Regions from separate parts of the Homo sapiens genome. Here regions 1, 2 and 4 are each linked to region 3. Evidence: fine-mapped expression QTL. A gene starts in region 3. Each other region holds a variant in brackets. All regions are shown on one strand. Distances are between the middles of the regions.

What was found. PIP is the estimated chance that this variant, and not a neighbour inherited with it, causes the effect. A credible set is the group of variants that fine-mapping cannot tell apart.
Region 1: its variant is the best candidate, but not a certain one, in a credible set for the expression of PPM1F-AS1 in ovary (GTEx, PIP 0.77).
Region 2: its variant is the best candidate, but not a certain one, in a credible set for the expression of PPM1F-AS1 in cerebellar hemisphere (GTEx, PIP 0.68).
Region 4: its variant is the best candidate, but not a certain one, in a credible set for the expression of PPM1F-AS1 in cerebellar hemisphere (GTEx, PIP 0.74).

The regions. Positions count from the first base shown.
Region 1 is chr22:22,892,969-22,897,968 of GRCh38, reverse strand. IGLL5 (immunoglobulin lambda like polypeptide 5) reads right to left here. Exons shown (of 3, transcript NM_001178126.2): 2 at 4,151-4,269; 3 at 1,858-2,594. The coding sequence ends at 2,275. It also overlaps IGL, IGLJ1 and IGLC1. Among named protein-coding and RNA genes, the nearest start is that of IGLL5, 7.7 kb to the right of the region's middle. The variant T/C (reference allele first, on the strand shown) is at 2,289.
Region 2 is chr22:21,953,753-21,961,967 of GRCh38, reverse strand. TOP3B (DNA topoisomerase III beta) reads left to right here. Exons shown (of 18, transcript NM_001282112.2): 14 at 1,519-1,647; 15 at 2,232-2,381; 16 at 2,736-2,836; 17 at 3,275-3,476; 18 at 4,373-4,943. The coding sequence ends at 4,854. Among named protein-coding and RNA genes, the nearest start is that of PPM1F, 5.0 kb to the right of the region's middle. The variant T/G (reference allele first, on the strand shown) is at 2,511.
Region 3 is chr22:21,934,318-21,942,532 of GRCh38, reverse strand. PPM1F-AS1 (PPM1F antisense RNA 1) reads right to left here and starts at 4,296. Exons shown (of 2, transcript NR_147620.1): 1 at 2,920-4,296; 2 at 1-1,431. It overlaps PPM1F (protein phosphatase, Mg2+/Mn2+ dependent 1F), which reads left to right. Exons shown (of 8, transcript NM_014634.4): 3 at 2,853-3,001. RefSeq lists enhancers at 2,258-3,064, 3,065-3,872, 3,873-4,679 and a silencer at 4,162-4,321.
Region 4 is chr22:21,877,086-21,885,300 of GRCh38, reverse strand. It overlaps the pseudogene MPPE1P2. Among named protein-coding and RNA genes, the nearest start is that of MAPK1, 14 kb to the right of the region's middle. RefSeq lists an enhancer at 1,717-2,478. The variant C/T (reference allele first, on the strand shown) is at 4,209.

The DNA.
Region 1 (5,000 bases), 960 kb before region 3:
TATTAGGGAATTAGTGATAATTTCTATTTAGGTTTGGTAATAATATTGCAGTTACTTTTAAGCCCATATCTTTCCAGCATAGAAATGGGATATTTACAGCTGAAAAGATGTGATGTCTGGTATTGTGTAATGGAGGGGTTATTCTGCTATGGGTGGGTCAGTAATGTCTGTGAATTGCTTATTGGGGGGGCTGGGTGATGGGAACTTGGGGGCATTATTATTTCTCTGTCTCCTTATGTATGTGTTCAAAGTTTTCCATAATGGAAACTTATAACACAGTCAAAGATTAGGCAGCTGCTGGGGATGGCCTTGTGCCCAGCAGGACTATGGATCTGGCCCTTGGTCATCTCAGTTTTCCCCTCCATGAAATGGGCTCAGACAGGTGCTGTGGCAACAGAACCCTCAAGCCTCCTTCTAATGAGAGGCTGGGATTTGGATCAGGGGTGGCTGTGATCAAGCTCTAAGGGGCTCTTTCTTTGCCTCATTGTGACTGCAGAGATTCCTGTCTTTGCAGGCTCTGTCCCTGGCCTGTTGGGATCACCCAGCAGCTCTGGTGGAGGCAGCTGCTATGTCTCTGATGTGCTGGAGGCAGAGACAGGGGGTCTGAGAGTACCCAGGCACTGAGGACTCTCCAAGACAGCTGGGGTCTCCACACCCAGGAGGCTGACATCATCTGCTGTCAGAGACACTGGAATGAGTGTCTCTGAGATGAGGCAGCAGGTGTACATGGGATGGGGTGGGGAGGCTGCGCCACCATGAGCTACGGAGGGAGAGGGTGCTCTGCGGGCAGGAGGGTTTGTGGGATCTGACTCCTAGTGGAGGCCAGGACTTGCCTGGAGCCATCAGCCCACATTCACTCAGCTCTTATTCAGTCTGACCCAGCCCTGAAGCTCATCCTGAATTCAACTCTGATTAGCCTCCCCCAGGCAATCAATAGATGCAGAGTTTGAGCTTGGATTTGTGACTTTTCTCATTTTCCCAATTTCCCCACATCCTCCTGCTCCTGCAGACTGACCATCATCAAGCTCCAGCCACAAACCAATCAGAAATTAACTCTACCTGGGCCTGACTTAGTGGTCCACACCCTTCATGCTTGACATCCAGCCCCACGCTAGTGTTAACTTTGAGCCTGATCCCCAACCCACAGCCATGTGATCATATACCCGTAACATCATGTGCATCAACCTCACCCCATATTCCACAAACTAGTTCCAGGAAACGCTGGTATCTTTCAGAGTGTTTTGGGTCTTCTAAAGGTGAAGAAGGAGATCAACATGCTTTTGGATATGCTGTGGCTCATCATATTAAACTGGTTCCCTAGTGCAGGACTTGTCAGTATGTTTACTTAGCCAATGTCCATTGTACAAGTCTTAGAAAGACACTTGCATGTTTCCTTTCCCAATGTTTTTACAAGTTCCCAGTGGCAGCACAGTTATTTATCCCTCACCCAGTAAACACTCTCCTGACTGGTTCCTCGTATGCAATGGGGAATTTCACCTTCTGTTCCTGCTGAGACCGTGGCCTTGAGTCAAGGGTGTCCTTTTTCCATTATTTCTGCCTCTAGCCCTCATCTGGTCTCCGGGGACCCCCTTCATTTCTCCTGAATCTCCCCACAGGGCGCCAGCAAACCTCTCACTGGGCCCCTGTCCCTTCCCAGGTGGGCAAGGACTGCAGGACAATTTTGTGCCTTGGATTGCAGTTCCCACTGGCACAGGGAGCTCACCCGGTTCCCTGGCAGGTTGGGTGGGGTGTGGGATGACGGAGACATGGGATCTCACCTGGAACTGCCCCCTGTCCCTGAGCAGTGACCCTTCAGCCCAGACACATGACCAGACAGAGACTGCACATTAGAAATGCTGCGTTTTACATGATCAGGTATTTATTGAGAAGTAAAATTTAGGAGGGTGTGGGACTGGTCTGAACTGATGCCAGACTGGTAGCTCAGGGGTACAGTGGAGAGTTGGAGAAGGGGTGACTGGGAGAGGAAGGACCCTCTGGGGAGATGACTCAGGGAGGCTGTGAGCCTCCTCCCTTGGGTGATTTTCACACTGGGTGCAGAATTCCCTGTACCCCACACTGAGAACCCCGGGGAGGCTAGCAATTTATGTGAGAAAAAAAATGAGATAAAACAAGATTTCTGGTTGTCAATGAGGATATTTATTGGGGTTTCATGAGTGCAGGGAGAAGGGCTGGATGACTTGGGATGGGGAGAGAGACCCCTCCCCTGGGATCCTGCAGCTCCAGGCTCCCGTGGGTGGGGTTAGAGTTGGGAACCTATGAACATTCTG[T/C]AGGGGCCACTGTCTTCTCCACGGTGCTCCCTTCATGCGTGACCTGGCAGCTGTAGCTTCTGTGGGACTTCCACTGCTCGGGCGTCAGGCTCAGGTAGCTGCTGGCCGCGTACTTGTTGTTGCTCTGTTTGGAGGGTTTGGTGGTCTCCACTCCCGCCTTGACGGGGCTGCCATCTGCCTTCCAGGCCACTGTCACAGCTCCCGGGTAGAAGTCACTGATCAGACACACTAGTGTGGCCTTGTTGGCTTGGAGCTCCTCAGAGGAGGGCGGGAACAGAGTGACAGTGGGGTTGGCCTTGGGCTGACCTGTGTGGACAGGGAAGGGGGTGAGAGAGGGCAGACAGAATACCGGGGTGTTGTGGAGCCCCTCTCTCTGTCTAAAGTCTCTGGGAGGGTTCACAGTGTGGCCATCCGGTCCACCCGGGGTTCTCTCCTCTTCTTTCCCCATCCTTTCCACTCATGCCCTGTGGAGAGCAGACAGCTCTGTGCCTTCCTAGGAGCCCTCCCAAGTCACCTTTCACAGGTGTCCTGGCCCAGCCCCTCTCCTCTACAGCCTCAATTTCTCCATATACCCAGGGCAGGCTGTGTTCCTTCTTCTCTGATCTCTGGAGTCTGAGTTTAGAATCTGGCCTTGACCCCTGGATCCCTCATTTCCATCCCTATACCCCCCTCCATCACCCACTTTATTCTTCCAGGACCTAGAGCCTCCTCCGTGAACTGTGGGTCCCCTGCTCATCCTGTAGGACTGTCCTGGCAGGCAGTGTGTGGGGAGACCCAAGCCTGCTTTGAACTGGAGCTTCCTATCCCTCACAGGCACCGGGCTCTGCCCCAGCCCAGCCCACTTGGCTCTCCTGGCAAGGAGTGGGCTCCACCTAGACAAGCCTCAGGGCTCCTCTGAGGCTCTGAGATGTTTCCTGTCTCCACAAGCCCGACCACAGAACCCTTCACCTCAGCTGTTCCTGGGGCTGCTCCCACAGACTATGAGACTCAGCAGCCCCCAGGCCCACCCCAGCAGCCTGTGATGACCCCAAACTTCACCTGGTAGCCATGGAGTTCTCTGCACCCCTCATTCACTCCCCTCTGGTCATTTCCTGAGTCTAACATGCCCTTTGAGGAAGGCAGGAGGCCGATCCGTGAACAGAGAGACACTGGGCCCCAGAGGTGACGGGGCTCCAGGGACAGACACATCTCTGCCCTAAGAGACTGTCTCCTTTCTGGTGACTGTCCTGGGAGGGTTGGATTCTGGCACCTCACCCAGTCTCACCCGTCCCTCTGTGTCCCCATGTCCTCATGACCCAGCACAGGCCACAGAGCTGCAGCCTAGACCCAGAGCCCTCTCTGTGCCCTCCATTGGTCTCCCCTTGGGGTGACCTCTGTGTCACCAGGCCGTGTGGCCCTCCCAGGCTGGATTGGCATCCAGTCCTCAGCCTAGACCCTCAGCTGTTCTTGGGGCTGCTCCCCTAGACTATGAGACTCAGCAGCTCCCAGGCCCACCCCAGCAGCCTCTGTCCTTGACCCCAGGAGTCACTGGGCAATGTCCCTAAGGACACTGCAGGGCCCCTCATCAGAACCAGCCTCTGTCCCTCACTCAGACATCTGCCCTGGAAGAGAGGAGGAGCCCTGACCCTGCCCAATCCCAGCTCAGGCCCCGGGACCAGGCTGCATCCGGCTGCTCCCACTGTGGAGGCCCTTCCTGCCGGTTACCCGGAGACTAATGCACCTCCTCCAGGCCCCATGGAGAAAGGTAAGGGTCAGTGCTTAAGGCTGGGAGGACAGAGGGGAGGAAGCCCCAGAGAGAGAAAACAGATTTTCCAGGGACAGCAGAGGGTGAGACAGGCTGGGAAAGGTTGAGAGCCACTTACCTAGGACGGTGACCTTGGTCCCAGTTCCGAAGACATAACACAGTGACTGAGGCTCAGACCAAAACCCCCGGGGCCAGCACCTGGGGTCTGCTCTCTGGGGGCTGGGCTGGAGCAGGAGCCTGCTGGGCATGACGGGCACAGGGTTGCAGTGGGCGGGGCTGGGACCTAGACATGAGGCAGGGGGGTGGCCAGCCCCCTAGAGGTGTCCCTGTGCCTGTCTGCTGTCCAAGGCAAGTGCCACACACAGCCTTGGAGTTACCCCAGTGTGTGTCTTTCCTCTCTGAGGCTGTCGGTGCTGATGACAACACTGGGACCCATAGGTCCCAGCAACTCCCTGAGTGACACATCCCCTCCTGTGCAGTGTGGCAGAGGAGTGCTGAGTTGGCTTGGACCTGTCCAACCTCGTCTGGCCTCATTTAAAGGGCCTCTGAGTCCCCCACACAAGTGTCCCCAGTGAAGCCAGGCTGGCTTTCTCCCTGGATTGAGAGCACTGGGTCATTCCTGACTCAAGTGGAGATTCCTCTGCTTTCTACCCATGGAGACGCGGTTCAGTCCCACTTAGTGCATGAAGCTTTTTCTGATCTCTGAGATCATTCTGTCTACCCATCCATCCAGTTGTCCATCCAGCTATTCATCTGTTCATCTGTTTGTCCATCAATCTATCATCCTTCCATCCATCCGTCCATCCATGCATCTGTCCACTCATTCATCCGACAACAGCTCCCAAGCACCCATCTGTGTCAGGTACTGTTTTTATGCTGGGACATGGCAGGATCCCCTGGCTCTCAGCCTCATCTCTCCCTCAAATCTCTCTGGTTAAGGCCAACAGTCCTTTGCCCCAGTTCAGTCT
Region 2 (8,215 bases), 19 kb before region 3:
GGAAGTTTCCACGCAAAAATGGGCAGCCCAGGGAGTTTATCAAAGCAAAAGTGTAGTCACCAGTGCACACTCCTCACAGGAGTGGTGGCCTCACAAGTCCCCAGGCCTGGAGCTGTGAGATGTCTCACATGTTGGGGGCCAGCCTCACTGCCGGAGCCTTCTCCCCAGGTGGCACTCGCGCCGCTGGGCACTGCCTGTTCCCTGGGGCACTACCCCTGGCTGACAGGCTCTGGAGACCTGTGGGATGTCACAGCCACTGTGTCCAGGCTCTGCTCCAGCAGTGGTCATATAGGTGGACTCTCAGGGAGTGTCTCTTCCCAGGCTGGGGTCCTGGTGACCATGGCGATCTTGGCAGGAGAGCAGAGCTCTGGGCTTGCTCCTCTCAGGGGTCCAGGGCACCTGCCAGGGTCCTGAAATAGCCCTCAGCCCACTGTGGAGTGTGGGCTCTGCTCCCCCGTGTCCTCTGCCCTCTCGCATTGATGGGACACTGGCTCCTGGCAGCCCTATGCTAGCCAGTGAGCCAGACCCAATCACCAATACAAGTTTGTGACAGTGAAGAGGGCTCTGGTGTTACCTTCTGAACAGGAGAGTGGTCAGGGTGGCCCTGTGACTGAGCCCCCAGGAGTGTGTCAAAAGGGCCTGACCAGAGCCGCCACAGAGGAGCCCACACCACGCGTCATGGCGCCCGGCAGACTCGGGGTGGTAGTGGCACACGCCACCCACAGCCTGCCACACCGGGTGCAGAGCTGGCCTCGTGCCAAGAGCCATGGGCCCTCGGCAGGCTCCTTAGCCCCCAGAGGCCAGTTTCTTCCCATGTGAGATTCTCTCCGAGCTACTTTGGGAAGGTGTGTGTCACCTGTCCATGCTGGTGAGCATGCAGGGAGCCCCAGCCTCCTTTCTGCCCCTCTGACTGGCACCCGCCATAGTCAAAACGCCTCAGCCTCCGCTGCGCCCCTCTGCCAGGAAACTTCCTCTGGGTGGGAGAGTGGAATCCTGGGGACTGGGAGCCTCCCCTGGGGATCGTGACGGGCCTTGCAGAGAGGGAGGAGGTGGGAGACAGGAAGTGGACAGAATTGTCCAGGTTTAGGGGAGGGCAGCTCTGCAGTGAGCTTGTAAGCACCTCCGTGTTCTGGTGGAGTGGGGCTCTGGCTCCGGGAGCAGGTGGGTGCCACAGGACCCAGGCAGGAGAAGCCATAGAAGTCACATTTTCCAGGCGCAGAATAAGCACTGTGACCTTGGAGAGTTCCTTAACCTCCGAGCCTGTTGTCTCTGCCATAAAGCAGGAGTAGGCGCCCTGTACAGGGAGGGCTGCCCTTGTGTTCTCAAGGCAGAACATGAAATGCATGCAGTTGGTGCCCAGCACAGTGCAGGGGGAGCTCAGGGCACAGCCCTCCCTCCTGTGACCGGGAGCAGTGAGAGGGCCTGAGCACCAGGGGCCCCGTGACAGGTGATACAGCACATGGTTCAGTGGGGCATGTCCAAGGCAGGCCAGGAACCCTGGGGCCTTGTACATTGCAGGCACGGATGCCAGCATCCCTGTGCATATCAACAACATCTGCCAGCGCAACTATGTCACGGTGGAGAGCGGGCGCCGGCTCAAGCCCACCAACCTCGGCATCGTCCTGGTGCACGGCTACTATAAGATTGGTGAGTTCCTCAGTCCTGCCCCCAGGGCCCACCGAGGCTCCCTGGCTTCTCCCTGGATGTTGGCTCTGCTGCCCGCTCCAGACAGGCCCCTGCCCTACAGTGATCCCCCAGCCCCACACACACTCCCTCAACACCCGCTGAAGGGGTGCTGCCCCAGGACCCCCAGGACCTGCCCAGAGCAGGAGCTCAGTGTGTTTGAAGGCTGAACAGATGTGTGAGGGAACCAAAAAGGGAGGCGAAGTTGCCTCAGCCCTGTTCCCTGGAGGTTCCCCAGGGGCCAAGGGGAGAGGGAGGAGCACAAAACTGGCCCAAGGGCGGCCTGGAGCTCATGTGTGATGTGGTTCTAGCCACAGGACATCCCTGGCCACTCTGCCTGACATTTCCAGGTGGGAAATCAGGAAAGGTCTGGGGTCATAAGAGCCAGCCTGGTACCATCTGAGGCTGTGGACTGGTGGGTAGGGCAGAGGCCAGGAGGACGGGCCAGAGCGGGAGGGGTGAACAGGGCAGTATCCCTGCCTGGGAAGGGGTGGCATGGCCCTGGGTGCGAGTGCTCAGGGCAATATCTGCCCCCTGCCCACTTGCAGATGCAGAGCTGGTGCTCCCCACCATCCGCAGTGCAGTGGAGAAGCAGCTGAACCTGATCGCCCAGGGCAAGGCCGACTACCGCCAGGTCCTGGGCCACACCCTGGACGTGTTCAAGAGGAAGTTCCACTACTTTGTCGACTCCATTGCTGGTAGAGTCTGCCTCTGGCCTGCCCCTCACCAGAGGGGTGTCTCTCTGTCAGCAAGGCCAGTACCTGGGGACCCAGGTCCCCACGTGGGACCAGCTCCCAGATCTGGGCTTCAGGCCTCCGTAGGCCAGG[T/G]CAGTGACACCTCCTGGCTGGGTTGAAAGAGCAGGTGCATTAACACCACACATGGCCAGGAACACGTGCCTCTGACGCACAGGGCTGCTGCCCTGCCGTGCTGCCAGGACAGTAGAAACCACCGCCTATAGGGACCCTTTCACACTCAGACCCTTGACCACGTGTTGCGGAGCCTTTTGCTGGGGACTGGGAGGGAGATGACTCCTGCACTCTGCTTGCCCGCAGGCATGGATGAGTTGATGGAGGTGTCTTTCTCGCCCCTGGCGGCCACAGGCAAGCCCCTCTCACGCTGTGGGAAGTGCCACCGCTTCATGAAGTACATCCAGGTAGGTGCAGGGAACACTAGCTCAGGCAAGCTGCCTCACCCCTGTAGGCCTCAGCTTTATCGTTGATCAGCAGGAATCATGTTCTTTGTCCTGGTTGTCACAAAAGAATGATGGAACATAAAGAGGCCTTGCCAAAAAATACCCAGTGTCCCCACGTCCCCTAGAATACACAGCCATTAGGCCACGCAAACACACATGGTGCATTTTTCCCTAACACCATGCCACTTGCCATCATGGGCATTAATGTACACACAGAGATTTTAGAACTGCCTTTTCTGCACGCGTGGAGCAAGAGCCAGAGACTCATGCTCCTTGCCTGGCAGTGTGTCACAGGTTCTGCATGACAGATTACATACTTTGTATTATGAGAGGAGTGGGGGTGGGTGCCAAGTCGGTGGCCCCAGTGACCCTCACGCCACCTGCCTGGCATTGCCGCAGGCCAAGCCAAGCCGCCTGCACTGCTCCCACTGCGATGAGACCTACACGCTCCCCCAGAACGGCACCATCAAGCTCTACAAGGAGCTCCGCTGCCCTCTGGATGACTTCGAGCTGGTCCTGTGGTCATCAGGCTCTCGGGGCAAGAGCTACCCGCTGTGCCCCTACTGCTACAACCACCCACCCTTCCGAGACATGAAGAAAGGTGAGTGCAGCCACTCCCTCCTGTCCACAGGTAGCTGCAGTCTCTTTTCAGTGCCAACCCCTGCCTTGCACCAGGCTGGACTCTGAGGGGACCCCTCACCCTGGCCTTTCCTGCACTCATTGGCACTGAGACGAGAGACCCTGGATGTAGCTGGGGCACTGCTTAGGCCTCAGCCAGTGGTGCCACCCTCTCTCTGTGTCAGAATCGAGCAGGCAACCCTAGTCCACCCTCAGGACCTGGGCACAGGTGTGCAGTGCTCCCTCTGGAGCTGAGTGAGCAAGAGGATGCAGCAGTCGGGGGACCCACCCGGTGAGCGGGCACCCCCAGTCAGCGTCCACCACCGTCCTCCATCCTCATCCTCGTCCTCATTACTGGAGGAGGGAGCGCATGTCCAGGCAGGCAGGACAGAGCACCGAGCCAGACCAGGAATCAGCGGGAGTGAGGCATCTGCCCACATTCACCGTGTGCTCTGCAGAAAGCTCCCTCAGGCCTCAGTCTGCACCCAGGCTGCCCCGGGAGTGAGACCCCATCCCTGCCCTCCTGCTGCCGCCAGAGTAGCTGACAGGGTGGTTCCATGTGGCCCAGTGACATGAGGGTCATGTGGCATTACCAGTAACAAGCTGGCAGCAAAGCAAAGGGGGGATGGAGTCAGCTGAAACCCACTGGGATGGTGCCAGCGAGGGGCCTTGAAAGTTGAGGAGGTTTCAGGTAAGCAGAAAACAGGGGTAATGGCAGCCAGGAGCCGAAACATGAGCAAGGCTGTCCCCAAGAGCAAGGCCAAGAAGAGTTCCTTCTGCTGGGACGAGGGATCCAGGAGCTTGAGGCATTGGGAGCAGGCAGCAGAGGGCAGGTGGGCACAGTGGGCGTGCCTTTACAGGGCTCCCTTCTCCCGCCAGGCATGGGCTGCAACGAGTGTACGCACCCCTCCTGCCAGCACTCGCTGAGCATGCTGGGCATCGGCCAGTGCGTGGAATGTGAGAGCGGGGTGCTGGTGCTGGACCCCACCTCGGGCCCCAAGTGGAAGGTGGCCTGCAACAAGTGCAACGTGGTAGCGCACTGCTTCGAGAACGCCCACCGCGTGCGGGTGTCCGCCGACACCTGCAGTGTCTGTGAGGCCGCCTTGCTTGATGTGGACTTCAACAAGGCCAAGTCCCCACTCCCGGGCGATGAGACGCAGCACATGGGCTGCGTCTTTTGTGACCCCGTCTTCCAGGAGCTGGTGGAGCTGAAGCATGCGGCCTCCTGCCACCCCATGCACCGCGGTGGACCAGGGAGAAGGCAGGGTCGAGGGCGGGGCCGGGCCAGGAGGCCCCCTGGGAAGCCCAACCCCAGACGGCCCAAGGACAAGATGTCAGCCCTGGCCGCCTACTTTGTATGATGACCCTGTCCTCCCTCACCCAGGCTGCAGTGCCATGCAGACACCTCATGGCACTTCAAACTATTAAAATGCATTTTATCTTATCCAGAGCTGGGGCCCCTTTGCTGGTGCAGCGATGTCAGAGCGTTACCGTGTCCCTGGGCACCTGTGGGGCCCTCTCTCCCTCTCCGAAACCCAATACGTCTCCCTTCAGCCTGCATACACGTGCCCAGAGTGCTCCCTGCTATCCCTACACCCTGGCAGTACGGGCAGGGATGCCCCAACCCTGAAGCCCTGGGGAATAGACCCAGTTTGCACTCACACCCCATCTCAATCCGTGCTGCTGATGGTAGCTGTGTGCACAAGCAGTGGCCCTGATGCCTTAAGGAAGGCGGCCTTGACAGCTGTGGCTCCGGCAGGAGAGGAGTCTAGTGGAGCAGGTGGGGCTGGGAGACCCCCTCCCCGGATCTGGCTTATGAATCCCCTTGGTCTTCGCTGCAGCCCCCTGCTCAGGGCCACGCTCTTGACCCCACACTTCTCCGTCCCCTGCTCCCTGCTCCCATCTCTGAGAAGCCCTGTACATGGTGCCCGTGTGCGTCTGGCAGCTTCCCAGGACCTGCTGCAATTCCCATTCTCACAACAAGCCCTTATGGTCTTAGAGGCAGCTGGGTGCCCCATGGAACCCATTCACATGCCAGGTTTAGAAAATACCCTGTAGGCCAGACTGCCGTGTGGTGCCAGGTGCTGGTGGCAGCTGCCCTCTGACCTCAGTGCCTTCTTGTGCTCCCCTCCCCAGCCACCCGAGGAGAGACACCTGTGCGGGATCCACTGTGTGTTGGAAACTCCCTCCACACTCCGCCCGTGCCTCATTGAGTGATGACGGGAGCTCAGCAAAACAGCTTTCCAGACTGTTCAGTGGGACCTTTCTTTGAGGGGCAGGTCAGGAATGTTTCGGACTCAGACCCGCCCCCGCCCCAACTCAGTAGTAGATTCCCAGGCTGCACCAGGACTTATATGAGAGCTCCTGTAAGGAAACCCAGAGCCCACCAAGCATACCCCCCCTGGACCCCCTTCCTGGAGGCCCTCACAGGTTAACACGGGGGTTCCCTGGAACACAGTTTGGAGAGCTACTCGAAGCTGAATGAAAATACAGAGACATGGGGAACCACATAGAGGGTCCTGGGATGTGTCTCAGAAGCACAGGCTTCAGGAAGGAGGGGGTGCTCTCAGAGCTTCTGCCCCCTCCCACCCACTCTGGTCCCATTCTGGGGCCCTAGCAAGGCCACACCTGTTAGGTCCCCAGTGCGGGGCTGTGACTCTGCTCTTCCACCCACAGGGCCCAGTGGACCTGGAGCCTTCTCCGCAGAAGGTTTCAAGACCTCCAGGACCCTTAGGTTATAGGGCTCATTCAGGCTTGGAGGAGCAGAGACGGTTCCTAGGTCTTAAACCCAGACCACCCAGTCCTTCCTTACTATGCTTCTGCACTGCGCTTTCAGCCACAGGCAGGGCTAATCACAAAGTGTTCCTTTATTTTCCTCTGCAGTTGTCCCTTGTGTGTGACCCTCCTTCAAGGCCCTTGGCTTCCGCAGCTTGATTCTGCACTCCGAGTCCATTCACCTTCTCCCATCCAATAGCATCCAACCCCGCTGCTACTGCTGCCAACCTGGCCTTGGGAGCAATGAGGACAAGGAAGGGACAAGACCCCTTTTAGGCCAGAACTGCCTTCAGATCAGCCACGCTCCATGGGACTGTACCTCTGCCCTGGAGGCTGGAGAGGTCAGTGGCTGCAGACTGTCTCAAGGAGCCCCTGGCCCTGCCCACCTAGCCAGGGGTGCAGCCTTGCCAGAGAAGCAGAGAAGCGTCTGTGGCTGGGTGGGTGATATTGAAAGATTCCTTTCACCAGGGTGGAAGCCAGGATCTGAGGCGTGATGGAATGTGGACAGTGAGGCAGTGACAGCGCCACAAGGCAGGAGTCATCTCCAGGCACGTCCTTGGCCTGGAGCCCATAGGGACAAGCTCCTGGTGGTGCCTCACTTTGCCATCCTCTCTAAGCCGCAGACCTTGAATGGAATCAGTGCTCAAGAGTCTAATTGGGCCCACTCTGAGGATGCCTGCGGGAATATCAGCTTTTACCGCACCACACTGCACTTTACAGTGTGGGAGGGCCTGCCCCACGCACCACCTCACCTGTACTGCGGTTCTCAAACTTCACCCTACAGCCATTCTGTTGTAGGTGATCTCAGGGGCAGTTTGAGAAACAGTGGCTCAGGGTCTCACAGCAGCCCTCTGAGATAGGTTGGTTGCTATTGTCCCGATTTTTTCTCATCAAGAAACTGAGGCTCAGGTGAGCTAAGGAATGTGCCCAGGGCCACTGTTTATAAGAAGTAGCCTCAAGCCTTGCTCATGGTTACTGCCCTGACAGGGATCTAGGAAAGAGTGAGCAGGAGAATGGGATGAGGCAGGACCCTCCGCCCCAGCCCTGCTTTCTCTGCCCAGACACCTCCTGCCTTGCAGACCCAACCCCACCCCAGATGGTTTCCTTTCCAGTCACCCAGCTGCTAGTTCTCCAGGTTCCTGGTCTCACTCCAGGTTCCTCCTGTTAGAGAAGCATCCCAGAGACATTCATTCCTGGCAAGGACACAGGCCTGCGGACCTGAAGGTCAGGTGGGCAGAGCCACATAAGATCTGGTGCCCCATCCTCCATTTAAAAAATTATACTTTCCAACGGCATTGGTATAAAGGTGAATATATTAATATCATATATTAAAACATTTTCTTTGACATAAAGGTTTCTTTCTTCTGCCTTTAAAATAAAATATTTTGGCCAGGTGTAATGGTTCACACCTATAATCCCAGCACTTGGGAAGGCTGAGGCAGGAGGATCACTTGAGCCCAAGAGTTCAAGACCAGCCTGGGCAACATAGAGACCCTGTCTCTACAAATTTTTTTTAATCAGCTGGGCGTGGTGGTGCTTGCCTGTGTTCCCAGACACTAGGAAGGCTGAGGCAGGAGGGGAGGGTCACTTGAGCCCAGGAGTTTGAGGCTGCAGTGAGCTGTGATCATGCCACTGCACTCCAGTGTGGGCACCAGAGAAGGAGCTTGTCTCTAAAAAGAGAGAAAAAGAATATTTTCAAGAGCCTCTGTGTTGGCAGAAAAATGGCCCTTCAGAGATGTTCATGTCCTATACCTGTGCCTGTGTTAGATTACATGGCAGACCCGGCATAGTGGCTCACGCCTGTACTGTAATCCCAGCACTTTGGGAGGCCGAGGCAGGCAGATCATTTGAGGTCAGGAGTTTGAGACCAGCCTGACCAACATGGTGAAACCCCATCTCTACTAAAAATACAAAAAAAATTAGCCGGGCATGGTGGTGCGTGCCTGC
Region 3 (8,215 bases):
GAGGAACTAATTTCTCATGTCTTGGCTGGTTGTTTTTCAAAGGCAGTTCCAGAGGCTTCTCCCATGAGTCACCCTTTCATTTTAAAAATCACGAATCTGCTGAGCATGGTGGCTCATGCCTGTAATCCCAGCTACTCAGGAGGCTGAGGCAGGAGAATCACTTGAACCCGAGAGGTGGAGGTTGTGGTGAGCTGAGATCACGCCATTGCACTCCAGCCTGGGCAACTAGAGCGAAACTCCGTCTCAGAAAAAAAAAAAAAAAAATCAGGAATCCATCCCGGTAGATTCCTCAGACCATCAGTAGATACCTTGGGTGCCCAGCCCCCATGGAACAAGACCTGTCAGCCTGTGCTGTTGGAAGGTCCTCGCCTTCCAGTTAAAGCCGGGAGTGTCGGCCCAGTGCAGAATCACCTCGCCACCCCAGGCATGCTCCCCTGACCCCCACTCTCAGGGACAGGCACACAGGGGTGAATGTGTGTTGTCCAGCTTCCAGGGCCCCCACTGGGTGAGAAGGCAGATTCCAGGGGTCAAAATGCATGTTAGAGGCCATAGGGCCACTGAGGGAGCGACCCCTTCTGCCCAGAAAAGCCAGGGATGGCTCAGAATTTTAGACACTCCTCCCCACTGCCCTCCTTCTCAGCCACAGATGGCTTCAGTGTTTCTTTCCCTGATCTGCCCCGTGGCTCTCTTCTGCCCTGCCTACCTGCTAAAAGACGCTAACCCTCCTGTCGGTTTGCTTTCAGCCTGCTGCGACCTCCCTTTCTACCCACTACGCCTCCTCAACTGCTCAGCTCTGTTCTATGACATTGAAAGCAGTGACCCAATCTCACTTCTTAAAACATTTCCTTCGTGGCACCCAGAAGGCCACTCCTGGAGTCATCCCCACTTTGCTAGCCATGCTCTGGCCCTGTGGGACTCAGCCCCCTATCCTCATTCATTCCGCAGCTCCATCTCCTGCCCAGACCATGTTCTTGCAGGCCCTCAGGCCTCTTGACCTCCGTGGAACACAAGTCGCTGTGGAAACAGAGCCCATTGCCCATCCCCTGCCTGACTCTTCCATCCCCATCAGGGTAATTAACTGTACCACGAGCCTTCTAGTTGCTCAGAATAGAAACTTCAACACTGTCCCTGCCCCTCCATTTATACTGCCCGACTCTGTCTGCTCCTGTTTGTCACCATGGCCCTGCCCAGCCCAGGTCTTAGACTCTCTCCTTTAGACAGTCGTCCCCTTCTTGCCAGCCCACCCTCCACACCAGGGTCAGAGAGGCCTAAAAGCCCCATCTGATCATGCCATGTCCCTCTTCAAACAGACCAAAGGCGGCCAGGTGTGGCGGCTCACGCCATTATCCCAGGGCTTTGGGAGGCTGAGATGGGAGGATCACTTGAGGGCAGGAGTTCAAGACCAGCCTGGACAACATAGCAAAACCCCACCTGTACAAAAAAATTTACAGATTAGCTGGACATGGTGATGTCTGTAGCCCTAACTACTGCCTGTAGCCCTAACTACTCTGGAGTCTGAGGTGAGAGGATCTCTTGAGCCCAGGGGTTTGAGGCTGCAGCGAGCCATGATTGCACAGCTGTGCTCCAGCCTGGGAGACAGAGCAAGACCCTGTCTCTAAAAATAAATAAATAAAACACAGACCAATGGCAGTGCTTCCCTGTTAGCATAAAGCTTGGCCTGCCCTGTTCCCACAGCCCCTCACCCCGGCAGCTCCTATGGCCCCATCCGCCCAGGGACCTTGTGGACCACGCACAGCCACTTCCTCTGCTGAGTGTGCCCATGGGTCCCACACCCCAGGATCAGCTTCCTGGAGCTGCTGTACAAATGACCACAGACCCAGCAGCTTAAACAACAGAAGTGTGCTTCATGGTGCTGGAGGCTGTCATCTGAGATCAGGATATTGACAGAACTGGCTCCTTCTGGTGGTTTGTGGGCAACCCTTGGCATTCCCTGGCTTGTAGGTTCATCCCCCAGGTCTCTGCCTCATGTTCCCCTGGCATTCTCTCTGTGTGTGTGTGTCTGTGTCCAAATTCCTCCCCCAACCTGTTTTTTTTTTTTGGAGACAGCATCTTGCTCTGTCGCCTAGGCTGGAGTGCAGTGGCACAATCTTGGCTCACTGCAACCTCCACCTCCCAGGTTCAAGCAATTCTTCTGCCTCAGCCTCCTGAGTAGCTGGAACTACAGGCATGCGCCACCACACCCGGCTAATTTTTGTATTTTTAGTAGAGATGAGGTTTTACCATGTTGGCCAGGCTGGTCTCAAACTCCTGACCTCGTGATCTACCTGCCTTGGCCTCCCAAAGTACTGGGATTACAGATGTGAGCCACCGCACCCGGCCCAAATTCCCTTTTTCATAGAGACATCAGTCATTGGAGTAGGGGCCCAGCCTGCTCCAGCATGACGTCATCTTAACTAATTCCATCTGTAATGACCCTGTTTCCAAATGAGCTCCATTCTGAGGTACTGGGGGTTAGGGCCTCAGTGTATGAATTTAGGGGGGACACAATTCAACCCAGAACACTCCCCACCCCCCAGGGTCCCCAGCTGGCATGGGTGATTCCTCTGCCCTCCTGTGGCCAGGAGCCATCATCAGCATGGATGTCAGGCAGTTTACTTGCCCATCAACAGCCCCCTCCCAACTAGCCGCAGGCTCAAGTATGGTCCAGCTCCCCACCAGATGGTTGTGCGTCTGCCTTTGCTGTCCTGTGACCTTCCTGTCCCAGCTCCCTGAGGACAGGGGCCGCCCTGCTGGCCGTGACCCCTCAGCATGTGGGCTGACAGTTGGGGAAGGGGGGCTAGGTGTGGTCTCCTGCTGGGGGCTGCCCCTCACTTCCCCCTCCTCATCCCTAGGAAGGCCCCGCCACCACTTGCTGCTGCTCTGGCCCACGAAGCAGTTTCACAGCTGCTACAGACAGACCTTTCCGAATTCAGGAAGTTGCCCAGGGAGGAAGAAGAAGAGGAGGAGGACGATGACGAGGAGGAAAAGGCCCCTGTGACCTGTGAGTTCTGTTTCTTCTGAGGTGGCCCCAGGGCTGCTTAGCAGGCAACAAAGGGTGACGACATTGTGGGAAGCCCATTGATTGGGGTCCCTAAGGGTGCTGGGGCCCTCGCTCACAACGGCAGCAGAATCAAGGAGCAGAGAAGGCTTGCGGCCCCAGTGAGGTGGAGGGTGGCGGTCACAGCCCTCCACAGGTCATATAGTTCCCAGTCAGCCCACGAGGCAGGGGTGGGTGGTGCAGACACCCTCCTGTGTCCTGTCTGACTGAAGTTCCAGAACAGCCCAGGAAATTAAAGATGCTTATCCCGTTTCACAGAGGATCTCACAGGTGATCGATCTCTGGTCATGCAGCCAGGTTCAAGTGCCCTCAGTGTTGTAACTCAGTTAACATGCGCCCGGGCAGGCGAAGTCAGGGTTGGCCAGGTGGCATGCCAGCAGGTCTCGGGGCAGCAGCGTGGTCCCCTCAACGCTCGGGCCCCCTGCCTCAGCTGCCCCCAAGTCAGGATTCTGTTGGGTGGAGACGCTCTACGGTGTCCATGAGCCCCATGGTTAGATGCTGGTGGAAGCTTGTCTGTCAGCCTGCTCCTGGGACAGCCATAAGCATGGTGTGGCCAGGGGAACCCAGAAATGGAGAGGGCTGCAGATCCATTTCACAGAGGATATAATCATTAAAAAGCAGGGCTTTTATTTCATGTGACTTTCTTTCATTCTCCTAGTAATTTCATTTTATTATATTTCGCCAAAGTGTTGGTTGATGTTAGACCAGAAATACAGGGCGTAAGAATCGCAGGCTGCAGCAGGGGTGCCACAAGGGGGTAGCAACGTCCCACCCAGCTGAATAGTTGTCCCTGGACAGGCCAGCAGGCAGCAGAGTTGCAGTGGATTTTCCCTTCCTTGCCATTTCCTGTCGGCCATTTCCTTTCCCTTCCTTTGCCATTTCCTTTCCTTTCCCTGTTGTTCTAAATTCGGCATTACTAGTGCATGCGTGCATCCGGGGAAAAGGAACAAGGTGGGAGAAGAGAGAGAAAGCGAATACCCGAGGCCGCCAGCATCAGTGGGTGCCCGCGCTCTCCTCCTCGCTCTCGTCCTCTGCCCTCCGCCCTGGCTCCCTGCCCGCATTCCCTGGGAGCGCAGCCTTGCCTTAGCCTGGGAGACAGCTGTCCACAGTGACAGGCGGCCATTGTTCTCGGCCGAGCCAGCAGGCTTCCGGCCGGTGGCAGCTGCTGCTCCTCCGCTCTGCGGCCCCACCAAGGGGGCGCCGCCACCGCCCAGGCCCTCCCCGCCTGATGGGTCTCTGTCCGTCCACGCGGGAGACAGCGCCACCTGCCGGTGAGAAGGAGCGTTGCTGCGCCGGCACCAGCCCAGTCCTACGCTCGGGGCTCCTGCAGGCCTGGGAAGGAGGGAGGGCGCAGCTAGAAGGAAGTCTCGCCTGCCCTTGCTTCCCCGTCTGTCAGAGTGCCTCGCATGCAGGCCTGCCTAGCGGCCTTGATCATGCTCTCCCTGTCACGGAAGTAGAATGTAGTCAAGTTTTTGGACTCCAAGCCATTCTTACAAAATTGCGTCAGAGTGGGGATTGTATTATAAGAATTGCCACTGAAGAGCAGCGAGTGGCTGAAACCTCTGTGTGGCTGCCAGTCAGCCCCTCCCCGGTGACTGGATCAGCGAAGAATCCAGAAGCGAGGTTGCGGGGCTGCAGCCCTTGGCATGGGGAGTCCGTGGGCTGGGCAGCACTGCCTCAGCCGCTGGCCTTTCCTGAGCAGAGTCTAGGCTAAGCGGCTGTTGGAAATAGCAGTAGCACCCGGGGCGAGACCGTGAGCCACAGCGGCGGCCGGAGTCTCCCCCAGCCCGAGCTCAGGCCTGGTAAGCACCAGGAGCCCACAGTTTCCAGAGGGAGTGAGGAGGAGTCCATGGCATTTAGGGGCAGTTTTCTGGGCACAGTGGCCCTCAGACGAGAGGAAGAGGAGGCAGCGCTACAAGGACTGGCAGGACGAGGGGGGTTTCCTGCTGGTTTGCAGGGGATCCACTGGCCAAACTTGTGTGGAGCTGCCTTCCCTGAGCTGGGCCTGCCTGAATGAGTTCTCAGGCCCCTCCTTCACCCATAGCCTTGCCAGTCCCCAGTTCTTGCCAAATGCTTGAATAGGCCCCTGTGTTGGCCATGGCGGCAGCAGCTGGCTCTGGATGCCCCCACCCCTGCCTTGATGCATGGATTCCCAAGAACCTGTCTTTCTGTGACCTCCTGCGTGCATAAGCCCTCGCGTTCATGGTTCTTCCTCGGTGGCCCCCTCTGGCCTCAGCCCTTCTCCTTTTCTTCCACAGCCTCCGCCTTTAGGCAGGAGCTCTTTCCTCCTCTCAGTTCCCCATGTCCTTTGGGTGTGGCCTGTGACACTCAACTCCTGCCCTCGGCTGACTGGCCCTGATTCACCATGCTTGCCACATGCACCTGGGCTGGCAGGAGTTCCAGGAGAGTTTGTGCATTGAAGTGACATGAGTCCCTGAAGCCAGAGCCCCCATGGTTTCCTTTGGGCCTGTTACTGGTTGATCTTTTCTTGAGAAGCCAAGCTTAGGTAGGATTTGGGTATTTTTTCTTTTCAAATGAGTATTGTGGCTTATATTATTTGTTGCTACATAACAAATTGCCCCAAATGTAGTGGCTTAAAACAACAGACATTTATTCTCCCAGTTTCTGTGGGTCTGGAATCTGGGAGCAGCTTAGCTGGTTCTGGTCCAGGGTCTCTTACTGGGTTGTGGTGACATGGTTGCTGGCTGGGCTGGAGGGCCTGCTTCCACGGTGGTTTCAACACACGGCCACTGACAGGAGGCCCTGGTCCCGTCCCATGTGGACTCTCCGTGGCGCTGCTTGAGCATCCTCACAGCTCAGATTGAGCGATGAGAGGGAGGGAGGAAGAGAGTGAGAATACACAAGGCGGGAGGCGCAGGGCCTCTTTGTTTCGTAACACCTGAAGCACACGCAGTCACTGCCACTCTTCATCAGAAGCAGCCAGCTCCCACACTCAGCAGTGGGAAGTGAGCTCCACCTCGCAAAAGGGGAAGTCAAAGAATTTGTGGACATGCTTTAAAGCCACTGTCACACGAGACTAACACTTGTAATGAAAAACTGGGGAAGTATTAAGAAAGTGTACTTCAGGAAAAAGCTGTCCGTGGAACTGCCACGTGCAGGCCCACTCTGACACCTTGGTTGTGTGCTGTTCCCGCCTTTTTTTTTTTCTGGCCCTGGTGGTTTTTCATGGACTTGTAGTTAAACTGCATATGTAATTTTCCTTCTTTTTTCACTTAGTATCATGACAGAAGCATTTTACATGCTTATAAACTCTATTAAAATCCATTTTTTAGTTTTCTGTTTTAAGAGACCAGGTCTCCCTCTGTCACCCAGACTGGAATGCAGTGGTGTAATCGGAGATCGCCGTAACCTCGACGTCCTTGGCTCAAGGGATCCTCCTGCCCCAGCCTCCCGAATAGCTGGGAGTAGATATACCACCACACACAGCTAATTTTTTTTGGTTTGGTGTTGTTCATTTGCGACTGAGTTTCGCTCTGTTGTCCAGGCTGGAGTGTAGTGGCTCAATCTTGGCTCACTGCAACCTCTGCCTCCCGGATTCAAGCAATTTTCCTGCCTCAGCCTCCCAAGTAGCTGGGACTACATGTGCATGCCAGCACGCCCAGCTAATTTTTGTATTTTTAGTAGAGACGGGGTTTCACTTTGTTGGTCAGGGTGGTCTCGAACTCCGGACCTCAAGTGATCTGCCTGCCTTTACCTCTCAAAGCGCGGGACTACAGGCATGAGCCATGGCGCCCAGCCTGTTTGTTTTTAAGAGACAAGGTCTCTTTATGTTATCCAGGCTGGTCTTGAACTCCTGACCTCAAGCAGTCCTCCCACCTCAGCCTCTCAAAGTGCTGGGATTACAGGCATGAGCCACTATGCCTGGGCTAGTTTTTTTTAATTAAACTTTTTGTTTTGAGATAATCATAGCTGCACATGCAGTTGTAATAAATAATACAAAGAGATTCCATGTATACTTTACCCAGTTTCCTCCAATGGTAACATTTTGCAAAACTATAATAAAATATCACCACCAGGATCCTAACATGGTCAAAATACAGAGCAGTTCCATCACCAGGATCCCTCCTGTCACCCTTTTAAGGCCACCCTTATACCCCCACCCCTACAGACCCCATCCCTAACCACTGGCAACTACTAATCTTCTCGGCTTCTACCATTTTATTATTTCAAGAACACATATAAATGGAAGCATATGATGTGTAACTTTAGGGGACTGGTTTAATTCTCTGGAGATTAGCCCAGGTTGTTTGATGCATCAGGAGTTCATTCTTTGCCATTCTTGAGTGGTATTCAAAGGTATGGGTCGACCACGGTTTGTTTAACCATTTCCACGTTGAAGGACATCTAGGCTGACTCCAGATTTTGGCTGTTCCAGATAAAGCTGCTATGAACATTTGTGTTCATGTGTTCAAGCTTTTATGTGAACAGCCTTCATTGTTCTGGGATAAGTCCACAGGAGTGCCACGGTGGGGTCGTATGGGAGTTGCATATTTCGTTATGAAAATCATATTTAATAGCAGCTTAATTCTTCATCAAGAGACTAGATCTTTTTTTTTTTTTTTTTTTTTTGAGACAGAGTCTTGCTCTGTCGCCCAGACTGGAGCATAATGGCATGATCTCGGCTCACTGCAACCTCCGCCTCCCAGGTTCAAGCGATTCTCCTGCCTCAGCCTCCCGAGTAGCTGGGATTACAGGCGCCCGCCACCATGCCTGGCTAATTTGTGTATTTTTAGTAGAGACGGGGTTTCACCATGTTGGCTAGGCTGGTCTCGAACTCCTGACCTCGGGTGATCCGCCCACCTCGGCCTCCCAAAGTGCTGGGATTACAGGCGTGAGCCACTGCGCCTGGCCGAGACTAGATCATAATTTAAGTATTATTCCTTTGTCATTGGATATATAGTATTTCTAATTAATGGGCAATTATAAGTGATTCTGTACTTTGTCTTTAAAATTATTTTTGTGTTTCTGATGATTTCTTCAGGGTGGGTTCCCATGAGTAGAGTTGCTCCATGGTGGGATGGGAGACTTCAAGGGGCAAGTTGCCAAACTAGACATTTCTAATTCTGGTAACAGGCTGCCATGTGCGCGTTATTGAGTTGATGTGCTCACAATGCCCCGGGAGGTGATGGGGGCTTT
Region 4 (8,215 bases), 57 kb after region 3:
ACTGGAGCACCCCTGAGCTGGTGTCTTGCTCTGTCACCAAGGCTGGAGTGCAGTGGCGTGATCTCAGCTTACTACAACCTCTGCCTCCCTGGTTCAAGTGATTCTCCTGCCTCAGCCTCCTCGAGTAGTTGGGATTACAGGCACCCGCCACCACACCCAGCTAATTTTTGTATTTTTAGTAGAGACAGGTTTCATCATGTTGGCCAGGCTGGTCTCAAACTCCTGACTTCAAGTGATCCGCCTGCTTCAGCCTCCCAAAGTGCTGGGATTATAGGCGTGAGGCACCGCGCCTAGCCATCTAACTTTAAATGTTATTTGTTAAAGTGGAATCTTTGTAAATGTATTCAAGGACTCTATCCAGCATATTTCCTTAAATTTTGCCAGATTTACAACATTTAGGATAAAGTTGGTTACTATCTAGAATAGAGGTTTTTTTTGTTTTTTTTCCCTACCCTAGGGTGTTTGTACAATTGATATTTTTAGCTTTATAAAAATAAGAGCTCCCTCTCCCTCTCCCTCTCCCCTCTTTCCACGGTCTCCCTCTGATGCCGAGCCGAAGCTGGACTGTACTGCTGCCATCTCGGCTCACTGCAACCTCCCTGCCTGATTCTCCTGCCTCAGCCTACCGAGTGCCTGCGATTGCAGGCGCGCGCCGCCAGGCCTGACTGGTTTTCGTATTTTTTGGGTGGAGACGGGGTTTCGCTGTGTTGGCCGGGCTGGTCTCCAGCTCTTAACCGCGAGTGATCCGCCAGCCTCGGCCTCCCGAGGTGCCGGGATTGCAGACGGAGTCTCGTTCACTCAGTGCTCAATGGTGCCCAGGCTGGAGTGCAGTGGCGTGATCTCGGCTCGCTACAACATCCACCTCCCAGCAGCCTGCCTTGGCCTCCCAAAGTGCCGAGATTGCAGCCTCTGCCCGGCCGCCACCCCGTCTGGGAAGTGAGGAGCGTCTCTGCCTGGCCGCCCATCGTCTGGGATATGAGGAGCCCCTCTGCCTGGCTGCCCAGTCTGGAAAGTGAGGAGCGTCTCTGCCCAGCCACCATCCCATCTAGGAAGTGAGGAGTGCCTCTTCCCGGCCGCCATCTCATCTAGGAAGTGAGGAGCGTCTCTGCCCGGCCGTCCATCGTCTGAGATGTGGGGAGCGCCTCTGCCCTGTCGCCCCGTCCAGGATGTGAGGAGCGTCTCTGCCCGGCCGCCCGGTCTGAGAAGTGAGGAGACCCTCTGCCTGGCAACCGCCCTGTCTGAGAAGTGAGGAGCCCCTCCGCCCAGCAGCCGTCCCGTCTGAGAAGTGAGGAGCCCCTCCGCCCGGCAGCCACCCCGTCTGGGAAGTGAGGAGCGTCTCCGCCCGGCAGCCACCCCGTCCGGGAGGGAGGTGGGGGGGTCAGCCCCCCGCCTGGCCAGCCGCCCCATCCGGGAGGTGAGGGGCGCCTCTGCCCGGCCGCCCCTACTGGGAAGTGAGGAGCCCCTCTGCCTGGCCAGCTGCCCCATCCGGGAGGGAGGTGGGGGGGTCAGCCCCCCGCCTGGCCAGCCGCCCCGTCCGGGAGGGAGGGAGGGGGTCAGCCCCCCACCCGGCCAGCCGCCCCGTCCGGGAGGTGAGGGGCGCCTCTGCCCGGCCGCCCCTACTGGGAAGTGAGGAGCCCCTCTGCCCGGCCAGCCGCCCCGTCCGGGAGGGAGGTGGGGGGGTCAGCCCCCCGCCCGGCCAGCCGCCCCGTCCGGGAGGGAGGTGGGGGGGTCAGCCCCCCGCCCGGCCAGCCGCCCCGTCCGGGAGGTGAGGGGCGCCTCTGCCCGGCCGCCCCTACTGGGAAGTGAGGAGCCCCTCTGCCCGGCCACCACCCCGTCTGAGAGGTGTACCCAACAGCCCATTGAGAACGGGCCATGATGACAATGGCAGTTTTGTGGAATAGAAAGGGGGGAAAGGTGGGGAAAAGATTGAGAAATCGGATGGTTGCCATGTCTGTGTAGAAAGAGGTAGACATGGGAGACTTTTCATTTTGTTCTGTACTAAGAAAAATTCTTCTGCCTTGGGATCCTGTTGATCTGTGACCTTACCCCCAACCCTGTGCTCTCTGAAACATGTGCTGTGTCCACTCAGGGTTAAATGGATTAAGGGCGGTGCAAGATGTGCTTTGTTAAACAGACGCTTGAAAGCAGCATGCTCGTTAAGAGTCATCACCACTCCCTAATCTCAAGTACCCAGGGACACAAACACTGCGGAAGGCCGCGGGGTCCTCTGCCTAGGAAAACCAGAGACCTTTGTTCACTTGTTTATCTGCTGACCTTCCCTCCACTATTGTCCTGTGACCCTGCCAAATCCCCCTCTGCGAGAAACACCCAAGAATGATCAATAAAAAAAAAAAAAAATTAGCTGGACATGGTGTTACATGCCTATAGTCCTAGCTACTAGGGAGGCTGAGGTGAGAGAATCCCTTGAGCTTAGGAGGTCAAGGCTGAAGTGAGCCATGATCATGCCACTGCACTCCAGCTTGGGCAACAGAGTGAGACTCTGCCTCAAAAAAAACACAAACCAAAAACCAAAAGACTAATAGAACTACTACTGTGTACATTTTAAAAGTCAGTTTTACTGTAAGTTAATTCATTTTTTTAAATTAAGAACAGTTCTCGACCGGGCACGGTGGCTCACGCCTGTAATCCCAATACTTGGGAGGCTGAGGCAGGTGGATCACCTGAGGTCAGGAGTTCAAGAACAGCCTGGCCAACATGGCGAAACCCTGACTCTACTAAAAGTACAAAAATTAGCCAGACATGGTGACAGGCACCTGTAATCCCAGCTACTCAGGAGGCTGAGGCAGGATAATTGCTTGAACCTGGGAGGCAGAGGTTGCAGTGAGCTGAGATCACGCCATTGCACTCCAGCCTGGGTGACAGTGCAAGACTCCCTCTCAAAAAAAACAAAAAACAAAAAACAAAAAAAACTAGAAAATACTATAAGTAGAAATGGTGATTAGATAGGGTGGGCATGCAACCTAGCATGCCAGTGAAGCATGAGGGGAAGACTGCTGCTGCTGGGGGGCTTCTTACTCCTGAGGAGGCTCCCAGAGGGACAGTCCCTTTCTGCCTTTGAATAGTGTGGTACCACGTGCTGTCTGGATCCACTACAGCCACCTCCCGACTTGCTTGAGGATAATGCCAACACAGAGAGGAGGGCAGTGCCTCAAAAAGAGCAGAGAAGAGGAGTCAGACCCCTACCTGTGTTAGATGAGAAAGCATGTGCCTTTACTGTTTGTACCAACTGAGTTTGGCCAGAACCAAAGTTGTGTCCTAGTTGAGCACCTAGGACAGAATATTGAAGGAGGTGCTCACTCTCGGATGCTGATGCTACACTTGCCAACCCTGAGAGTGAGCATCTCCTTAAATGTACACCCCAGGTGCCTCACTCAGCTCACCCTGGTCCTGTTCGTGTTTGACTTAGGGCTTTTTGGACTTACAGCTGAAAGATTCTAACTGGTAAGGGGAGGACACACTAGAATTTAAGGAATGGGCAGATAAGAGGAACCCCGAAAAGGAGATAAAAGGCAGCTGCTCTTATTTGGGCCAAAGCAATGTTATATAATATCAATGCCAGGGGCCACCCCAGCCTAATATTAAAGGAATTGTCTTCCAAGTTTGTAGTAGTAGTTGTATTATTTTCATGATTTTCCAAAGAGTGTTACTGCATCTCTCTTTTTTTTTTCTCTCTCTCTCTCCCTCCCTCCCTCTCTCTCTCTCTTTTGAGACGGAGTCTCGCTCTGTCACCCAGGCTGGAGTACAGTGGCACGACCTCGGCTCATTGCATGCTCCGCCTCCTGGGTTCATGCCATTCTCCTGCCTCAGCCTCCTAAGTAGCTGGGACTACAGGCGCCCGCCACCACGCCCGGCTAATGTTTTTGTATTTTAAGTAGAGACAAGGTTTCACCATGTTAGCCAGGATGGTCTTGATCTCCTGACCTCGTGATCCGCCCACCTTGGCCTCCCAAAGTGCTGTGGTTACTGGCATGAGCCACCATGCCCAGCCTCTCTCTTTTCTTTTCTTTCTTTTCTCTTCTCCTCTTTGCTTTTCTCTATCTCTCCTTCTTTCTTCTTCTTCTTTTTTTTTTTTTTTAAAGTGTTGCTCTGTTGCCGAGGCTGGAGTGCAGTGGCATGATCTCAGCTCACTGCAACCTCTGCCTCCCAGGTGCAGGCAATTCTCCCTGCCTCAGCCTCCCATGTAGCTG[C/T]GATTACAGGTGCCTGCCACCACGCCCAGCTAATTTTTAGTGTTTTTAGTAGGGACAGCGTTTTGCCATGTTGGTCAGGCTGGTCTCAAACTCCTGACCTCAGGTGATCTGCCTGCCTCTGCCTCCCAAAGTGCTGGGATTACAGGTGTGAACCACTGCACCCAGCCTTTTTTTTTTTTTTCTTTTCTTTTCTTTTTATGAGACAGTGTCTCGGCTGGGAACAGTGACTCACACCTATAATCCCAGCACTTTGGGAGACCAAGGCAGGATTGCTTGAGCCTAGGAGTTTGAGACCAGCCTGGGCAACATACCAAGATCTTGTCTCTACAAACAATAAAAAAATGAGCTGGGCATGGTGGCACACACCTGTAGTCCCAGCTACTTGGGAGACTGAGGTAGGAGGATGGCTTGAGCCCAGGAGGTTGAGGATGCAGTGAGCCTCAATCATAGCTCACTGTAACTTGGAACTCCCAGGCTCCAGGGATCCTCCACCCTCAGCCTCCCGAGCAGCTGGGACTATAGGCATGCACCACCACAGTCAGCTAATTTTTTTAAAAAATTTTTTCTGTTTTTTTTCTTTTTGAGATGGTGTCTCTCTCTGTTGCCAGGCTGGAGTGCAGTGGCATGATCTTGGCTCACTGCAACCTCCGCCTCCTGGTTTCAAGCAATTCTGCCTCAGCCTCCTGAATAGCTGGGACTACAGGCGCACGCCACTATGCCCAGCTAATTTTTGTATTTAGAGTAGAGACGGGGTTTTGCCATGTTGGCCAGGATGGTCTCGATCTCTTGACCTCGTGATCCGCCCACCACAGCCTCCCAAAGTGCTGGGATTACAGGCATTAGTCACCGTGCCCGGCCTATTTTTTGAATTTTTTTAGAGACAGGGTCTCACTTTGTTGCCCAGGCTGGTCTCAAACTCCTGGCCTCAGGCAATTTTCTCACCTCTGCTTCCTAAAGGGCTGAGATTGCGGGTGTTAGCCATCATGCTCCTGGCCTGTTACTGTATTATTTCCTTTCTGGTTGAAACCTTTTTTTTTTTTTTGAGAGACAGAGTCTCACTCGCCCAAGATGGAGTGCAACGGCCCAATTTCGGCTCACTGCAACCTTTGCCTCCTGGGCTCAAGTGATTCTCCTGCCTCAGCCTTCCAAGTAGCTGGGATTACAGGCACCTGCCACCACGCCTGGCTAATTTGGGTTTCACCATGTTGGCCAGGCTGGTCTTGAACTGCTGACCTCAAGTGATCCACCTGCCTCAGCCTCCCAAAGTGCTGGGATTATAGGTGCTAGCCACTGCACCTGGCTTCCCGACTGAAACCTTTTTTTTTTTTTAAATGGAGTCTCACTCGTCGCCCAGGCTGGAGAGCAATGACGCGATTTCGGCTCACTGCAACCTCTGCCTCCCAGGTTCAAGTGATTCTCCTCGCTCAGCCTCCTCCAAGTAGCTGGGATTACAGGCATGCACCACCACGCCCAGCTAATTTTTGTATTTTTAGTAGAGACAGGGTTTCACCATGTTGGCCAGGCTGGTCTCCAAACTCCTGACTTCAGTTGATCCGCCCTCCTCGGCCTCCCAAAGTGCTGGGATTACAGGTGTAAGCCACCGCGTCCGGCCATCTGACTGAAATCTTAGTAGAATGTCTGCTAATGTTCTAATAAAGCACTTAGTAGGATGTTTGTTAATTTTAAACTTCGTATGATTGTTCATTTGTTAAACTGTGCTGTGATCAGAGGATTTGACCTCAACAATTTTTGCTTATTTGGATTTATTAAAAAATTTTGTGGGCCAGGTGTGGTAGCTCATGCCTGTAATCCCAGCACTTTGGGAGGCCGAGGTGGGCAGATCACCTGAGGGCTGGAGTTGGAGACCAGCCTGGCAAACATGGTGAAACCCAGTCTCTACTAAAAATACAAAACTTAGGGCGTGGCAGTGGGTGCCTGTGATCACAGCTACTTGGGAAGCTGAGGCAGGAGAATTGCTTGAACCAGGGAGATGGAGGTTGCAGTGAGCTGAGACCGTGCCACTGCACTCCAGCCTGGGCAACAGAGCGAAACTACATCTCAAAAAAAAAAAAAAACAAACAAACAAATTTTGTGGTCCAGTAAAGGATAAGTTGTTGTCAATGTTCCAGAGATACTGGGAGTGGTGGTGATGTATTTTATGTAGGTGGAGGACACAGCGTAAGTTTTTATACCTTACTAATTCTGCTGTTTAGCTCATCTTTATTTTTGTTTATATGTCACAGTCTGATAATGGTATATCATATTTTACTATAATTATAGTTCACTGCAGCCTCAAACTCCTGAGCTCAAGCCATCCTTCCATGTCAGTCTCCCAAGTAGATAGGACTGCAGATGCATGCCACCACACGTGACTAATTTTTAAAACTTTTTTTTTTTAGAGAGGGGCTTCGCTACATTGCCCAGGATGATCTGTAACTCCTGGCCTCAAGAAATCCTCCTGCTTTGGCCTCCCAAAACACTGGGATTACAGGTGTGAGCCTCTGAGCCCAGCCTATAACTGTGTTTCTATTAGCTGTGTTCCTATAGACTTTTTTTTTTTTTTTTTGAGACGGAGTCTCGCTCTGTCGCCCAGGCCGGACTGCGGACTGCAGTGGCGCAATCTCGGCTCACTGCAAGCTCCGCTTCCCGGGTTCACGCCATTCTCCTGCCTCAGCCTCCCGAGTAGCTGGGACTACAGGCGCCCGCCACCGCGCCCGGCTAATTTTTTGTATTTTTTTAGTAGAGACGGGGTTTCACCTTGTTAGCCAGGATGGTCTCGATCTACTGACCTCATGATCCACCCGCCTCGGCCTCCCAAAGTGCTGGGATTACAGGCGTGAGCCACCGCGCCCGGCCGACTTTTTTTTTTTTTTAAAGAGACAAGATCTTGTTATGTTGCCCAGGCTGGAATGCAGTGCATATTCACAAGCATGATCATATGGCACTACAGCTTCAAACTTCCAGTCTTAATAGTCTTAAGTGATCCTCCAGCCTCTGTCTCCTGAGTAGCTGGGACGATAGGTATGTGCCACCACACCCGGCTCTGCTTCTTGTTTTGTGTTGTTATGTTATTTGGTGCCTTTAGTTTCACAATGCCTTTTTTTTTTTTTGAGACAGGATTTTGCTCTGTTGGCCAGGCTGGAGTGCAGTGATGTGATCATAGCTTACCGCAGCCTCTAACTCCTGAGCTTAAGGGATTCTCCTGCCTCAGCCTCCTGGATAGCTGGAACTACAAGTGTGTACCACCACACTCAGTTAATTTTTTAATTTTTATTTTTGTAGAGACAGAGTCTTGCTATGTTGACCTGGCTGGTCTTGAACTCCTGGCCTCAAGTAATCCTCCCACCTCAGCCTCTCAAAGCAGTGGGATTACAGGTGTGAGCCACCATGTCCAGTAACAAAGCCTTTTTATATTATATATATTATTAGTATACATACTACTAATATGTATATATATGCATATACATACTATATATATACACACACATAAATAGGCATATCTTTTTAAACAACAGTATATATTCAGTTTGCTTTTTGATGTGATCTGAAGTTTTAATATTTTAAATAGTAATTTTAGAAGTTTACATTTTTACTTGTTTACATTTGGCTTGTTATACGTAATCTAACCTTTGCTCATCTAATTTTCTAATTTTCTGGTGTTTTGATATTCTTGTTTATAATTTCTTGCCATTTCTTTTTTTAATTTACAAATGTGAGGAAAGTATCTAGTATACTTCCTAAGACTCTTGATTTTTGCTGTATGAATTACGTTGTTCCTTTCGTCTCATGTAATGAATTATAAGGTATACATAAGGCTTTTTACACTGAAAAATTATATGAACTTATATATTTTTTTAAATAACTTTTATCCTCATGTTACATAAAACAAAGACATAGTCTCTGGCTTTTCTATCCTCTTTCTTCTCCCCTGGTTTCCACTGCATAATCTCAGGTTTAAAACCCTATTTTTAAAGATCTTCGTTCTCAACTTTTTATTTTGCATTTTG